2 linked regions of the Homo sapiens genome follow. The protein of the gene in region 2 purifies or fractionates together with the protein of the main gene of each other region. This does not show direct contact. Each region holds a gene or a part of one and is shown on either strand. Other genes may lie near its edges. The genes, in order: SFSWAP and AKNAD1.

Evidence for each region.
Region 1: the proteins of AKNAD1 (region 2) and SFSWAP purify together in Homo sapiens (affinity purification with mass spectrometry; one large-scale study listed by BioGRID and IntAct). This does not show direct contact.

Annotation. Positions count from the first base shown.
Region 1 is NC_000012.12:131,748,995-131,752,813, reverse strand, and holds part of SFSWAP (splicing factor, suppressor of white-apricot homolog), read right to left. Parts: intron 1-3,819.
Region 2 is NC_000001.11:108,846,888-108,850,706, forward strand, and holds part of AKNAD1 (protein AKNAD1), read right to left. Parts: intron 2,690-3,819; coding exon 2,650-2,689; intron 2,174-2,649; coding exon 2,025-2,173; intron 1,928-2,024; coding exon 1,865-1,927; intron 1-1,864.

The sequences.
Region 1 (3,819 bases), on a different chromosome or scaffold from region 2:
GGTTGGGAACAGTCTCCTCTCTAGCGGCAACCAGTCATCCCTTTGCTCACACGGCCCACGAAGGCCACCTATGCTCCTAAATGCACATGTGAGGAAATGCCTTTGGCTAGCTCCCCGCGCTGACACCTGCTTTCATTCCCCAGGCACGCTGCTCCCTCCATTCACACGTTAATCCGGAAACCATCCCCTCAGTAAGGCAGCTGCTCCTGGCAACCCTGGCGTCAGCCCCCGGCCCCAGCAACACAGGCTGTGCAGGAATTTATTCAGTAAATAAAAGTTCCCAGGGGCACTGAGGCTGTGTCTGGACCTTTCCATCACAGACAGTGATGTATGCCGTCTTGCCACCTATGCTGTGCACACAAGCAGGTATCTGTAGGGTAGAGGCACGCTGTCTTAACAATTAAAAATCCTGTACATTTATCCTTTTTGGGGTTAAATGTTCAGAACCACGAATCACAGAAGATTCAATGATTAATTACGAAATTTAATTTCCAGTCCTGTTGTAGATAAGCAAGTAGTTCTGACTACACAGAGATTTAATTTCCTCTTTATTAGGAGATGGCAAAAATATTTTTCGAATTAAGAACTTTTATCTTCACTTTCAATCAATTCACCTTAAAACAATAACATTGAAAAACAGTAAAAGCTTAACTATGGTTTCCAGTAATGTATGCTATGCAGAGAAAAATTTCAGAAGTACAACTTAGACTATCTTGACCTTTCCATCTTAGATTGGCGAGGCAGCATAATTCCTATGTGCTGTAGGCATATTCCCCAGCTGCTAATGACTTATTTAAATTAATTATACATGATGAACTCCTAAACCGTTGTTCTCTAGCTCCATGTTACACACCAACCACCATGACACAGAAACAGTAATACTCCAAATTTTCAAAATAAGATAAGTGGGTTCGATGTGCTCCACATTATCGTCAACACAGATATATCTGAGCAACATTTCTGAGAAAAGGCCGGGAGCAGGGGATGAGACCCTTGGATGTCAATGGGAGGCTGACAGCAGGGCAGGCACCGTCTCTGAGGCTCCTGCAGCGGCAGGTCCTGTCTTCACTGTCTCTGCAGCCTCTGCATTGAGCAGAGTATGTGCTGGACCAACGAACTGACCTGATGGTCCAACATAGGCTTCCTATCAAAATCAGGAATCCGAATATAAGCATGTGCTTCTGTAAGAGACAACGTCATCCCTGGAAGGGGGGAGCTGCTGCTTCCACCCACTCCCTGCTGGAGCCATCAGGCTACTATGTATGGATGCTTCCTCTCAGCCAGGGCGAAGCCAGCACTCCAGGGGAGAGAGTGCAGCCCAGTGTGTGCTTAGCTCTGGGGAGGGCCAGGCGGAACTGACCCCACTACCGACTGGCTACTGTCAGGTCTCCAGCCTCCCACCTCAGCAGGAAGGACGGAAACCCCATGTCCTGCTCTGGACAGTCAGTCTCACCCCTAAAAAGTGTCCAAACATGTTTTAAACTGGGGCCACAAAGGACGGGATCTGAATTCACAAAAACAAACAAAACAAAACGGTTTATAATTATTTCAACTAGTAGTACATATTATGCAGCTCCAACCTGATACCTGCATTCTTTATGTAACTGTGTAAAGTGCAATCACACTGGAACACAACAGAGATGAAGAAACTGTTTTCAAAGCTGAGCGCCATTCCTTTAAAGAACACGCAGACTGTTAGTCTATATGACCTTCCTGAGCCTTCCATCTTGTTAAATAAAAACGAAGTGTTAAAAAAAATAGCAGTGCCGGCAAAATGGCAGACTGCTCAGAGACTCATCCACTACAAATGTCAAAAATGTCAGCTAATTTGAAAAATTTAGGCTGGGTGCCATGGGTCACACCTATAATCCCAGCACTTTGGTAGGCTGAGGTGGGAGGATGCTTCAGGCCTGGGCAATACCATCAGACCCCATCTCCAAAAAATAAAATAAAATAAACTAGCTGGGCATGGTACACATCTACAGTCCCAGCTACTTGGGAGGCTGTGGCAGGAGGATGGCTTGAGCCCAGGAGTTTGGGGCTGCAGTGAGGTGTTGATGGCACCATTGTGCTCCAGCTTGGGTGATGGAGTGAGCCCCTGAGCTGAGCTCACAAAAAGAAAAAAAGGCTGCCTGTAGGTGTAAAAATGAAACAAATGCCCAAATCTGAAAACACTCCAGGGACATCCTAGCCTAGGTCCACAACTTGCTTCAGAGGCTCCACGCTAAAAACCACTCAGGCTGACAATGCTCTGGGCACACCCTTGACCCAGACCCAGGAGATTCTCACAGAGGAGAGCTGTGAAGCCGAGACACGCGCAGCCTCTGTGAGGCGGTCTGCTGCTAGCCACTGCTGCTGTCACCTCTTCCCCACACACACCTGTGATTCTCTCCAAGGTTTTAATCAAATTTGAAAATCATCCTGTCTCTCAAAAGGACTCCAAGAGAAATAAAGTATGTGTTGCTTGATGAGATGAAAACACTTCTCTGTCTGCCGACAGAGAATGTGGGACGTGTCCTATGGCACTGCCATGCTCGGAGGCAGCCCGGGAACCAACACCACAGTGGTTCATGAATTCCGCTACACCGTTCCTGGGTTGCTTCTCCCAGATTCTCACTTCATAGGGTGTCAGGGATGTGAAGATCTAAGGGAGGACGTCAGATCCATCCTTCCCCAGACACTGTGGCCCTGGTGGGAGGCAGGACGGGCACAAGTCATCTGGAGCAGCCCAGGGCCAGCCTCCCGAAGGGCTTCTGCCGCTTGCCCAGCCCACCCCTTGCCCTGGCTTCTGTTCCCCAGGTCTCTGTCCTTTGCACGGCCTCACAGGGTCTCTGCCTGCCATGAGGCCCCTATTCAGCTTATCTCCAGTGCCACCTCTTTCGGGAAGCCTCTGCCTCCTTGGCAGACTCAGGAGGCCTTTGCTCTGGGCTCGCGTGGGGACCCTGTAAACAACGCCCTATGGCAACTCCTGCGCCACTAGGACTGGTGTGCAGCTATGTTCCCAAGGACTCCATATCTCCAAATAGTGACCACAAAACCTTAGCCGCTCACACAGCTCCTGGCATGAGCAGGCCCTCAGTAAGTGTTTAATGAGTGAGTTCATGCCAGCTGGTGGCACGGCCTGGACTGCTTCTAAAATGCCTCAGTGCTAAAATATCCTGCAGTGACCATGAAGCTGCTTGACACGTGCCGCACACAATGGTGGCACCATACAGCTCACAGAACCCTTTAACTGGACTGAAGCCCTTTAAACTGACTACCAACTATAGGACACAGGGATTTTGTATACAGCCCCTTGTATGTTGTACACAGCAATTCTCGTGAACACTAAATTTTAAGAATTTCTGGACTAGTACAGGGTGACAACAGAAATAAAATCTACAAGCTGGGCTGTAGTCTACAAACTGAAGTCTGGGCTGGCAAAAGCCACATCAGCTTTACAATAACTGTGCCATTACTAGTCATGAACGGGGGAGGGCACAGTGTGCCAAGGGGCTCCTGCTGTCCTCAGGCTGCCACGACATGCCGGGATTCTCCTGGGCTTATAGCGAGGCTACTTCCCGACAACCCCACCATACACTGACAACACCGTGAAGTGGAAAATGCACAGAATCCACCTATAACCCACCGAACACCATGGCACAGCCTCACCTGCCTTAAATGTGCTCAGGGCACCTACAGTAGCTGACGGCTGGATGACATCATCTAACACGAAGCCTATTTTATAATAAAGTTTTTAGTATCTCAAGCATTTTACTGATGTTCTACTGAATGCAAATTGCATGTGCACCATCATCGAGTTGAACCCTCAGTAAGCTG
Region 2 (3,819 bases):
CATTCTAAACGGGATCCTCTACTTTTATTCCTGACCTTGGTTACCCAAGCCAGAAATCTGGAGCTCATCCAAGCCTCTTCCCTTCCTCTCTTCAGCCCTTTCCATCTGCCACCATTTCCCTAAACCCCCAGATTTGTCCCCATCTCCAGCCTCATTGCCAGCCTTCGTTCAGGCCCTCCTGACTTGTTACCTGGATTCTGGCTTCCGAACCAATCTCTGTGCCTTCAGCCTTGCCCCCATGGTGCTTCCCATTTGTCAGCTTGAAAACCTTCAATGCAGCCAGGTGCAGCGGCTCATGCCTGTAATCCCAGCACTTTGGGAGACCGAGGCAGGTGGATCACCCTGAAGTCAGGAGTTCAAGACCAGCCCAGCCAACATGGTGAAACCCCGTCTCTACTAAAAATACAAAAATTAGCCAGGCACGGTGGTGCACACCTGTAACTCCAGCTACTTGGGAGGCTGAGGCAGGAGAATCACTTGAACTTGGGGAGTGGAAGTTGCAGTGAGCTGAGATCACACCACTGCACTCTAGCATGAGTGACAGAATGAGACCGTGTCTCAAAAAAAAAAAAACAAAAAAAAAAACCTTCAATGCTGCCCAATTACTCAGCCTCAGGCATGGCTTAAAGGCCTTCATGAAGTACCCCTGTCCACCTCCCCTGTCTCCTCCCCCACCCCCATGTCACCACGTGCTCCCAAGTGCTGTATGGTAAATCACAGTGCCCACAGCTCCTCACACTGGCAGCACTTCCTCACCCCTGTGCCATTGCACCTGCTGTTTTCTTTTTCTAGAATACCCCTTGGTCTCCTGCCAAGCTCATCCCTATTCCTTCTGCAACACCCAGCTCAGAAGTGACTTCCAGGAAGCCTTCCAAATGTCCCCTCACTGGCAAAGGTGAGCCTCTTCTAGGCTGCCATTAGCATTCTCTGTAACATTTCTCCAGCTGCATTTTAGCTGCCTGTTTACCAGTCCACTGTTCCTAAGAGACTATAAACCACTTGGAAAAGGAATTGTTTATTCATCTTGAATTCCTAGTGCCTGGTACAGGGTCTGGGACATAGAAAGTGCCTGATAAATGTTTGTTGAATGAATGATTTAATTAACAGGATAAAGGAGAGAATAATCAACTGTGTCTTTTAGCATTTGGGTCCCCTGGTTTTTGTCCATGCTGCTAGGTTTCTGAAGCACAGCCCTCCCTAAACCTTGCTTGTGCCTACATCAGAACTTCTGACCTTATCCCTTGTTGATGAGCCAATGGCCTCAACTACATCTTCAATGTCAGGTCAGCATACTTCTGGTTCTCCCAGCCTTACCCTTCACCCCATTGCTCCACCCCCTTCCCATGATCCTGGCACTGACAACATGACTGCTGTGGTGATGACATAAATTAATGGTTTGATTAAATGCAGCAACTAGCAAGGATATGAAAGGAAAAGATTTTGACCTGAAAAACATTGCTTCAAGGTTGATTTTATGAGTATTCAAAGTCATATTTAATTTCCAGGTAATGGCAATTTTTATAACCTGAATTCACCAGTACCCATCAACTGCGGACAGGCCCACTCTTTATAACTGATTATGGGTTCTTCTCTTGAACCTCCCGTGGTGTCAGATTAATTATGAGTAACCTGGCAAGGAGTAATAGCCATAAGTAATAGATCCCCTGAGAAGGAAAGAGGGCTAAATAGATAGAGAAACAGAATTCTAAGCTCTTTTAGCCCCCATAAACAAAGATGGTTTAATCTTTAGCAAAACATTTCCACTCCCACCACTGTAGAGAAAACATGGCACTATAAAGTTATTTATCTTTATCCAAGCCATATTCTCTAATCAAGATTTTAAAAACGGGATAAAATTCATTACCAGCTTCTTGTCTTGCAAATGGTAAGGAGAGTCCTGTTTTATTCTTTTGGAAAATTCTTGTACCTGCAGTGAAAAAATTACAATCTCTCATTAATGGCATGGTTTCTCATGTGTGAATTTGGTTACTTATATTGTTTATAATAAGCTTTAAAAGTATTACTTTAGTCTTCAGTTGATCAGTCTGTTCTTTCAACTTCTGACACATCTGTTTCCCTTGGGATATCTTTTGAAATATGTAAGAAGAACTTGAGGAAGTGCCTTTCTGAGAGGTTGGTGACAACTTAGAGAGACTTGCCTCAGATTCTATTCCTATACAAGAAAGAACACATTTGGGCTACCATTCATCTCAACTTATCACAGTTTTATTAAGTACTGAAAACAGAAAGCTGTTGCAGTCACCACCACTTACTATTTTTAAAATTTAATTTTTTTCAAAATATTTATCTAGGCCAGGCACAGTGGCTCACACCTGTAATCCCAGCACTTTGGGAGGCCAAAGCGGGGGGATCACTTGAAGCCAGGAGTTCAAGACCATCCTCAGCAACAAAGTGAGACCCCACATCTACAAAAAAAAAAAATTATCTAGGTGTGGTGGCATGCACCTGTAATCCCAGCTACTCGGGAGGATGAGGTGGGAGGATCATTTGAGCCCCAGAGGTCAAGGCTGCAATGAACCAAGATTGTGCTGCTGCACTCCAGCCTGGGTGACAGAGTGAGACCCTGTCTCAAAAAGACAAAAACAAAACATATATATATATCTCAAAGAAGTTTTAAAACATTAGTACCTGTGAGAAGTTCTTGGTGGATATGTACTATGGGCTCCATCTGCACAATTAAAGGGTAAGAAAACGTTACTGTCGATATTGATCAATGACACCACCGTTCAGAATGACCCAACATGTTCTGTCATCATAGAGGGAGCCCAGGTTTGCAGTCAAGAGCCGGAGCCATGATGCCAAGGTTGAATTCCACTCTGACACTTACTTGCTGGGCAACCCAAGTAATTGTCTCATCACTTATAAGCCTGCAATTCTTTGGCAGGAAAATGGGGATAGTAAGTGAACCTGCCTCAGGGGGTTGTTATGAGGATGAAATGTTAAATATCTACCATAGTATCAGGCAGGTGGTAAGCATGTAACAATACATGTTACCTGTTATCACCATTGTGTTTGATACTGGTATGTGAAATGCTGAAACATTTCTCCTAAAACTAGACTATAAGTTTCACAAGGGTAGGGACCATGGCTGGTCTTGTCACCAGCTCTGTTGCTGGTGCTGTCACTAACACAAAACTCATGGTAGCCACACTCTAGAGAATAACAGAGGATGCATTAAGTTCCAAACTGTGTGTCAAGATAGTGATGGTTTTCTACTCACCACTGGCTAATTGAACAGTTTAAATTCCAGAGTGATTCACCTTGTGGGGTCTTTCCTTTGTTCCCAACACATAAAGCTCAGAAACACGCTAGTGCTGGAGAGCTGGTCAAAATGGACTATGGTCTTTCTAGACATCTCAACTATATGACGGATATGAAACCTGCAGTGTCCAATTCTCCAATCTGAATTGACAGAACTGGAAAAAATCAGATACCTGACCTCGAACCCCCATACCAGAGGGAGAAGAGCCTGATATCCATCTGCTCCTGCTAACCACGGGGCACTGAGAACTGGACACAATGAGGATGTTCTCCTGCAAGCAGAACAAGGAACCCCGACACTTCCCAATACCACGGGGGTGTAGGTTTCTCTCAGACCTAGAGAGCATCCCAGTCATGGCCAGGTGGGCTGTTGGCTCAGGTTTGGATGTAGGGGGTTCTGCTCAAACTCCCCAGGCATTCAGTTGAAAGAGAGGGGAGCTGAAGTGTGAAAATGGAAATGGAAATTAAAAAAAAGAGAGAGAGAGAAAAATCACTTCCAAGGTTAGGTTACAGAAAAAGAGAGAGAATGGAAATGGA